Linked DNA regions of Homo sapiens: region 2 is linked to region 1. The links come from fine-mapping of genetic effects on gene expression. A gene starts in region 1. The other region holds a variant in brackets. All regions are shown on one strand. Distances are from middle to middle. Region 1 holds the start of ZC3H3 (zinc finger CCCH-type containing 3). Region 2 overlaps ZC3H3 (zinc finger CCCH-type containing 3).

What was found. PIP is the estimated chance that this variant, and not a neighbour inherited with it, causes the effect.
Region 2: its variant is fine-mapped to the expression of ZC3H3 in whole blood (INTERVAL, PIP 0.98).

What each region holds. Positions count from the first base shown.
Region 1 is chr8:143,539,941-143,542,851 of GRCh38, forward strand. It overlaps ZC3H3 (zinc finger CCCH-type containing 3), which reads right to left and starts at 1,507. Exons shown (of 12, transcript NM_015117.3): 1 at 1,436-1,507. The coding sequence starts at 1,481. It also overlaps the pseudogene RN7SKP175.
Region 2 is chr8:143,460,165-143,463,075 of GRCh38, forward strand. All of the region lies in intron 9 of ZC3H3 (zinc finger CCCH-type containing 3), which reads right to left. Among named protein-coding and RNA genes, the nearest start is that of MAFA, 31 kb to the left of the region's middle. RefSeq lists enhancers at 1,719-1,828, 1,792-2,505, 2,189-2,258, 2,279-2,448, 2,506-2,911. The variant G/A (reference allele first, on the strand shown) is at 1,642.

The sequences.
Region 1 (2,911 bases):
GATAGCTACCCCGGTGCAGGAGGGCCAGGAACACAGGCAAGGGCGGCAGCAGCCAGCCTCCCAGTTATCAGCATTCCCCCACCACAGGCCCTGCCCCCGGGGGCACAGAAAGCCACGTCCAGACGTGTTGACGCCCCAGAGCAGGTGTGATGGGAGCTCAAGAAGTGTCCCCAAGTGGGAGGCAGCCCACCTGGCCTCTTATCCATACACACTTTCCCAATCCTTAAGTCTTCCCTTTGTGAGAGTAAAAGCAAAAAGGATTTTTAATTTTTAAAGCTTTTTTTTGTTTGGTTGGTTTTGGCTTTTTATTTGAGATGTGGTTTTTCTCTGTTGCCCAGGCTGGAGTGCAGTGGCCCAATCACGGCTCACTGCAGCCGGGACCTCCAGGGCACAAGCAAACCTTCCACCTCTGAGTAGCTGGGACTACAGGCGCAAGCCACCACGCCCATCTCACTTTTTAAAATTTTTCTGTAGAGACGGGCTCTCGTCATGTTGCCCAGGATGGTCTCAAACTCCCGGGCTCAAGCCATCCTCCTGCCATAGCCTCCCAAAGTGCTGGGATTACAGGTGTGGGCCACTGCGTCCGAACATGGATTTTCTTTTTAAGTTTAGAAAGACCAATTTGGGTTTTTTAATGTTTAAGTGTGGAAGCTGAAGCCTGTTCAGTCTGCGCCTGGAATGGCAAGGGGAGTGTGACTGTTCGGAGAAAAGGGGCATCAAAACCGGGCGTCGAGGCTGGGAGCGGTGGCTCATGCCTGTAATCCCAGCACTTTGGGAGGCCGAGGCGGGTGAATCACCTGAGGTCGGGAGTTAGAGACCATCCTGGCCAACATGGTGAAACCCCGTCTCTACTCAAAATACAAAAATTAGCCAGGCGTTCTGGCGCCTACCTGTAATCCCACGTACTCCGGAGGCTGAGGCAGGAGAATCACTCGAACCCAGGATGAGGAGATTGCAGTGAGCCGTGATCGCGTCACCGCACCCCAGCCTGGGTGACAGAGCAAGACTCTGTCTCAAAAAAAACCGGGCGTCAAGGAAGGAACCCGCGTGCGCCCTTAGCCTGCTCTGCCGAAATGAGCCATGAACTAGTCCCAGCCCCGCAGTGGGGCGCGGGGAGAGAGTGGGCGCCGGGGGACGCGACAGCCCGCGGTGGTGGGGAGGGCCGCCGCCCCCCGCGGGTTACTAAGCGACGGCCCTGCCTCCACCCTCTGCAGCCCCAGCAGGGCCGGCACCACTCCCTCGACAAAGCTGGAGCCGGGGACTGACCCGGGCCCTGAGCCGGCCCACAAGTCCTGGCGGACCCTACCGTCCCCCACCCCAGCCGCCACCCAGAACACGCGGGCGGTGAGCGACCCCTTCGACAAGGGGGCAGGGGACCCGCCGCGAGGTGAGGGGGAAAGAAGGGGACTCGCGTCCCGGCCCCGGCCGGACCTACCCTGCAGTAGGCGGATCTGCCGCCGTAATATCTCCTTTTCCTCCATCTCCCGAGTCCGCGACGGCCGGCCAGGCCCCCACGACGTCATCGCTACGCGACCTTTTTCCCGCGGGCGGGGCGGAGCGGGCCAGGGCGGAGCTGCCAGGAGCAGGCCCGGATGTCTGCCGACCGCCGAGGACCCGCCGTCGCGCTGACAACGGCAGCGGAGAGGCAGAGCCGCGCACGCGCAGAACGAGGCGGGGACGTCACTAGTGAGCGCCGGGAAGTGGCCTGGTAACGGCTGGGAAGGGACTGCTTGGGCTCTGGGAGGCCGCGCGGGCCCAGCTTGTGCAGTCCGGGATCGCGTCCCCTTGGGAGACTTGGCGAGGGGCGAGACCTGGGGCCCACCCAGCCCATACCGCAGTTCCTTCCCACAGTCCCTGCGTTTCATTTCGCCCCAGTTGAGTGTTGGGGGGGGGGGGGTCTACGCGGGGACCCATGGGAGAAGGGCCAGTTAACAATTACTCTTGACCCAGGAGGGTCTGTGAAACCTCTTACTGTGGCCAGAGGAGAAGACATCGGAGAGCAAGGTTCCCTGGATAGACATGTTGAACCTCTGAAAACATGAAAGTTTTTAGTTCGTCATTGGAAACATGTACAAGTGTAAACCTCTGTGCGCTGTTGGTGGGAATGTAAATGGCGCAGCACCGCAGAAAACTATGGAGATTCCACAAAAGGTTAAAAGTAGAACTACCGGATATGAGGGCGATCTGGCTGCGACACCTGTCATCCCATTGATCGCCAGGGTTGATTCGGCTGATCTGGCTGGCTAGGCGGGTGTCCCCTTCCTTCCTCACTGCTTCATGTGCGTCCCTCCCGAAGCTGCAGCTCAGTCGAAGAGAACGACCATACCCAATAGAAGAGCTGGGCTTCCCTGGTAGAACCTCCAAACAAGCTCTCAAGGTCCATTTGTAGGAGAAGGTAGGGTAGTCAAGATTCCAGACACATCCAAATGAGGCGCTGCATGTGGCAATCTGCCTTTCTAGGAGAAAACAAAAATGGAACTACGGTATGATCCAGCAACCCTACTTCTGGCTATATTCCCAAAAGAATGGAAACCAGAGACTCAAACATATTTGTGCCCCCATGTTCACTGCAGCATTTTTCCCAATAGCCAAAAGACGGAAACAACCCAAGTGTCCACGGGTGGATGGAAGGATAAACAAAATGTGATCCATACAAACAATGAAATATTTTTCAGCCTTAAAATGGAAGGAAATTCGGCCGGGCGCAGTGGCTCACGCCTGTAATCCTAGCACTTTGGGAGGCTGAGGCGGGCGGATCACGAGGTCAGGAGTTTTGAGACAAGCGTGGTCAACATGGTGAAACCCCGTCTCTGCTAAAAATATAAAAAATTAGCCAGGCGTGGTGGCGCACACCTGTGGTCCCAGCTACTCAGGAGGCTGAGGCAGAAGAATCGCTTGAACCCAGGAGGCG
Region 2 (2,911 bases), 80 kb before region 1:
TCGAACCCGGGAGGCGGAAGTTGCAGTGAGCCGAGATCATGCCATTGCACTCCAGCCTGGGCGACAGAGTGAGACTATGTCTCAAAAATAAATAAATAAATAAATAAATAAATAAATAAATAAATAAAAGGCATCCCAATTGAAAAGGAAGAAGTAAAATTATCTGTTTGCTGATGACATGATCTTATATGTAAGAAAACCCTAAAGAATCCACACACAAAAAAAGTTAGAATAAAGAAATTCAACCACAACAAGTGGTGGGGAGGGTGTGGAGAAACGGGAACCCGTGCGCCGTTGCTGGGAACGTAAAGTGGTTCAGCCACAACAGAAAACACTTGCCGATTCCTCAGAAAGCTAAACACAGAATTACTCAGACTCCAGCAATTCCACTCCTCAATATACACCCAAAGGAAGTGAAAGCGGGGCTCAAACAGATACCTGGCTGTCAGGAATCACTACAGCACCAGTCACAGTAGCCACATAACCACCAGCACACGAAGGAACTAACAAAACGCAGTGCACACACAACGGAATGTTACTCTACCATAAGAAAGGAATGAGGTGCTGCTACACGTGTGAACCCTGGAAACATTATGCCGGGTGAAAGATGCCAGACACCAAAGGACAGATGCTGGATGATTCCACTGACGGGACACAGCTAGACCCTGGAAACATTACGCTGCGTGAAAGACGCCAGACACCAAAGGACAGAATGTACGATTCCACTTAGAGGACATAGCTAGAGGAGGCGCCTTCACTAACTAGTTAGGTGTCTAACTAGGGTTTGGGAAGCGGGGAGTGGAGAGTCATTGCTGAATACTCAGTGTTTCTGTCAGGAGTGAGGAAAACATTTTGGAATGTTTCCACGGTGTTGTGAATGTAGTTAGCTATTGAACTAAGTGCCATTTTGACGCTTAAAAATGGTCAAAATTTATGTTATATATATTTTACCACAATTAAAAAGTAACACAGTATATACCAAAAACTATTGAATTGTACACTAAAATGGGTGAATTATGTGGTACGTGAATCATATCTCAACAAAGCTGTTTTTCAAAAAAAGATAGGAATGGCCCATAAGCACCCAGGTGCTCTGCGCATCCAGGCCATCAGGGAAATGCAAACCAAAACCCCAGGGATACGGCACGCCACGCCCACCAGAACGGGTGTGCCAGAAAGGCAGATACCCAGAGCTAGCGAGGAAGTAAGCAAGACGAAAGCCTTGCTCGCTGCCGGCAGGAGTGTCAAACAGTGAAGCCGTTTTAGAAAACAGGAGGCTGTTAACCTAGAGTGACCCTGTAGCCCTGCAGTGACCCTATGGCCCTGCAATTCCACTCCTAGGTGTCTACCCAAGAGAAGCAAAAGCATCGGCCACACAAAGGCTGGAGCGCGGACATTCGAGGCAGTATTATTCACGACAGCCCCCAACTGGCAACCACCCGAACGGACAAAGAAAGTGTGGAGAGCCTCTGCAGCGGCTTGACTCTGTAATAAAAACGGGTGCAGCGCTGAGGTGCTGCAGGACAGACCTCCAAACATGATGCAAAATCAAAGATGCCAAACAACCATGTACTGTATGATTCCAGCAACACGAAAGGCCCACAGAAGAAACTTACCGAGACAGAAGTGGATGAGTGTTAG[G/A]GGCCGGGACTGATGATGAAAAGAGTGAGGGAATTCTGGGGGGCGATGAAAACAACTGAAAGCTGCGCTGTGGTGCAGCTGTACCACTCTAAGTTTACTCAAACCCACAGAACCATACACCTAGAGCAGAGGAATTGTGTGGGAGGGAAACTGTACTTCAGTTAAGCTGCTTTTTTTTTTTTTTTAAAGCTGACACCACAGATCAAAGGGTTAGATCACCGTTGAGGGAAAGCACCCACGACATGAAGAAAAACTAAGTGAGGCCCCACCTCACACAACACGCAAATGAAGAACAGCAAACGGCAGCCGACTTGTAGGGAGGCCTCCCTGTGCCAGGGCCACCCAGGACACTGCCAGGCCCACTGTGGCCCCCTGAAGAGTCGCCACGACCCTCTGAGATAGGCAGTGCCGTTATCCCGACTGTATATAAAAGGAGACTGAGGCCAGAGGAGGAAGTAACCGTGCAGGGACAAGCGACACCCACAGCTGCCTCTTGAGCCAGCATCAGGCAATGCAGGAGGCACTCTGTGACCATGGGTGGAGACTGGTCCTAAACAAGACCCCGAGCACAAATCACAGGGCAAAGGATGTCAGGACCTTGCCTCATAAAGGACGAAGGATTCGGCCTAACAAAGGGCAGCACTGGCGAAAGCAAGGCACCAACAGAGAAGCGCTGTATGTGAACAAAACCAAGACAGGCGCTGTCCAGAGGACACAGGAGCCCTTGCAAGCCTGGAGGATGAAGGCAGGGTGTGCGTGAGGGGAATCCCAGGTGACTCAGGTCTCAGCTCGCACTTGGGGAGCTGAAACCCAAGGCTCAGCCAGGGCCTTCCCTCTCCCGACAGCTCCCTGCAGACAGGCACCAACCACACACAGGGTGTGGGGAAAACGGCAGCGCGGAGGCTCACGGAGCAGGCACTGCAGATGCAGGAGGGCCAAGGTGTGCAGGAGCTCTCAATGCAGAGGTGGGGATGGAGTCACTGTCACCCCTGCACACGTGCACACGATGCTCCCCAGCCCTGTGCACTGGGGGCGCTGGCAGCAGCCAACACCCTAGCTGCAACAAGCACACGCAGCGCCCAGACCCTGAGTCCTAAACACACCCAGAAGGAACCAGGGCGCCCTGCAGGAGCAGCTGTCCCACCTAGAGCCACCAGGAGCAGCGCCCAGACCCTGAGTCTCTTTTTTTTTTTTTGAGACAGAGTCTCACTCTTGTCACGTAGGCTGGAGTGCAGTGGCGCAATCTCAGCTCACCACAACCTCCACCTCC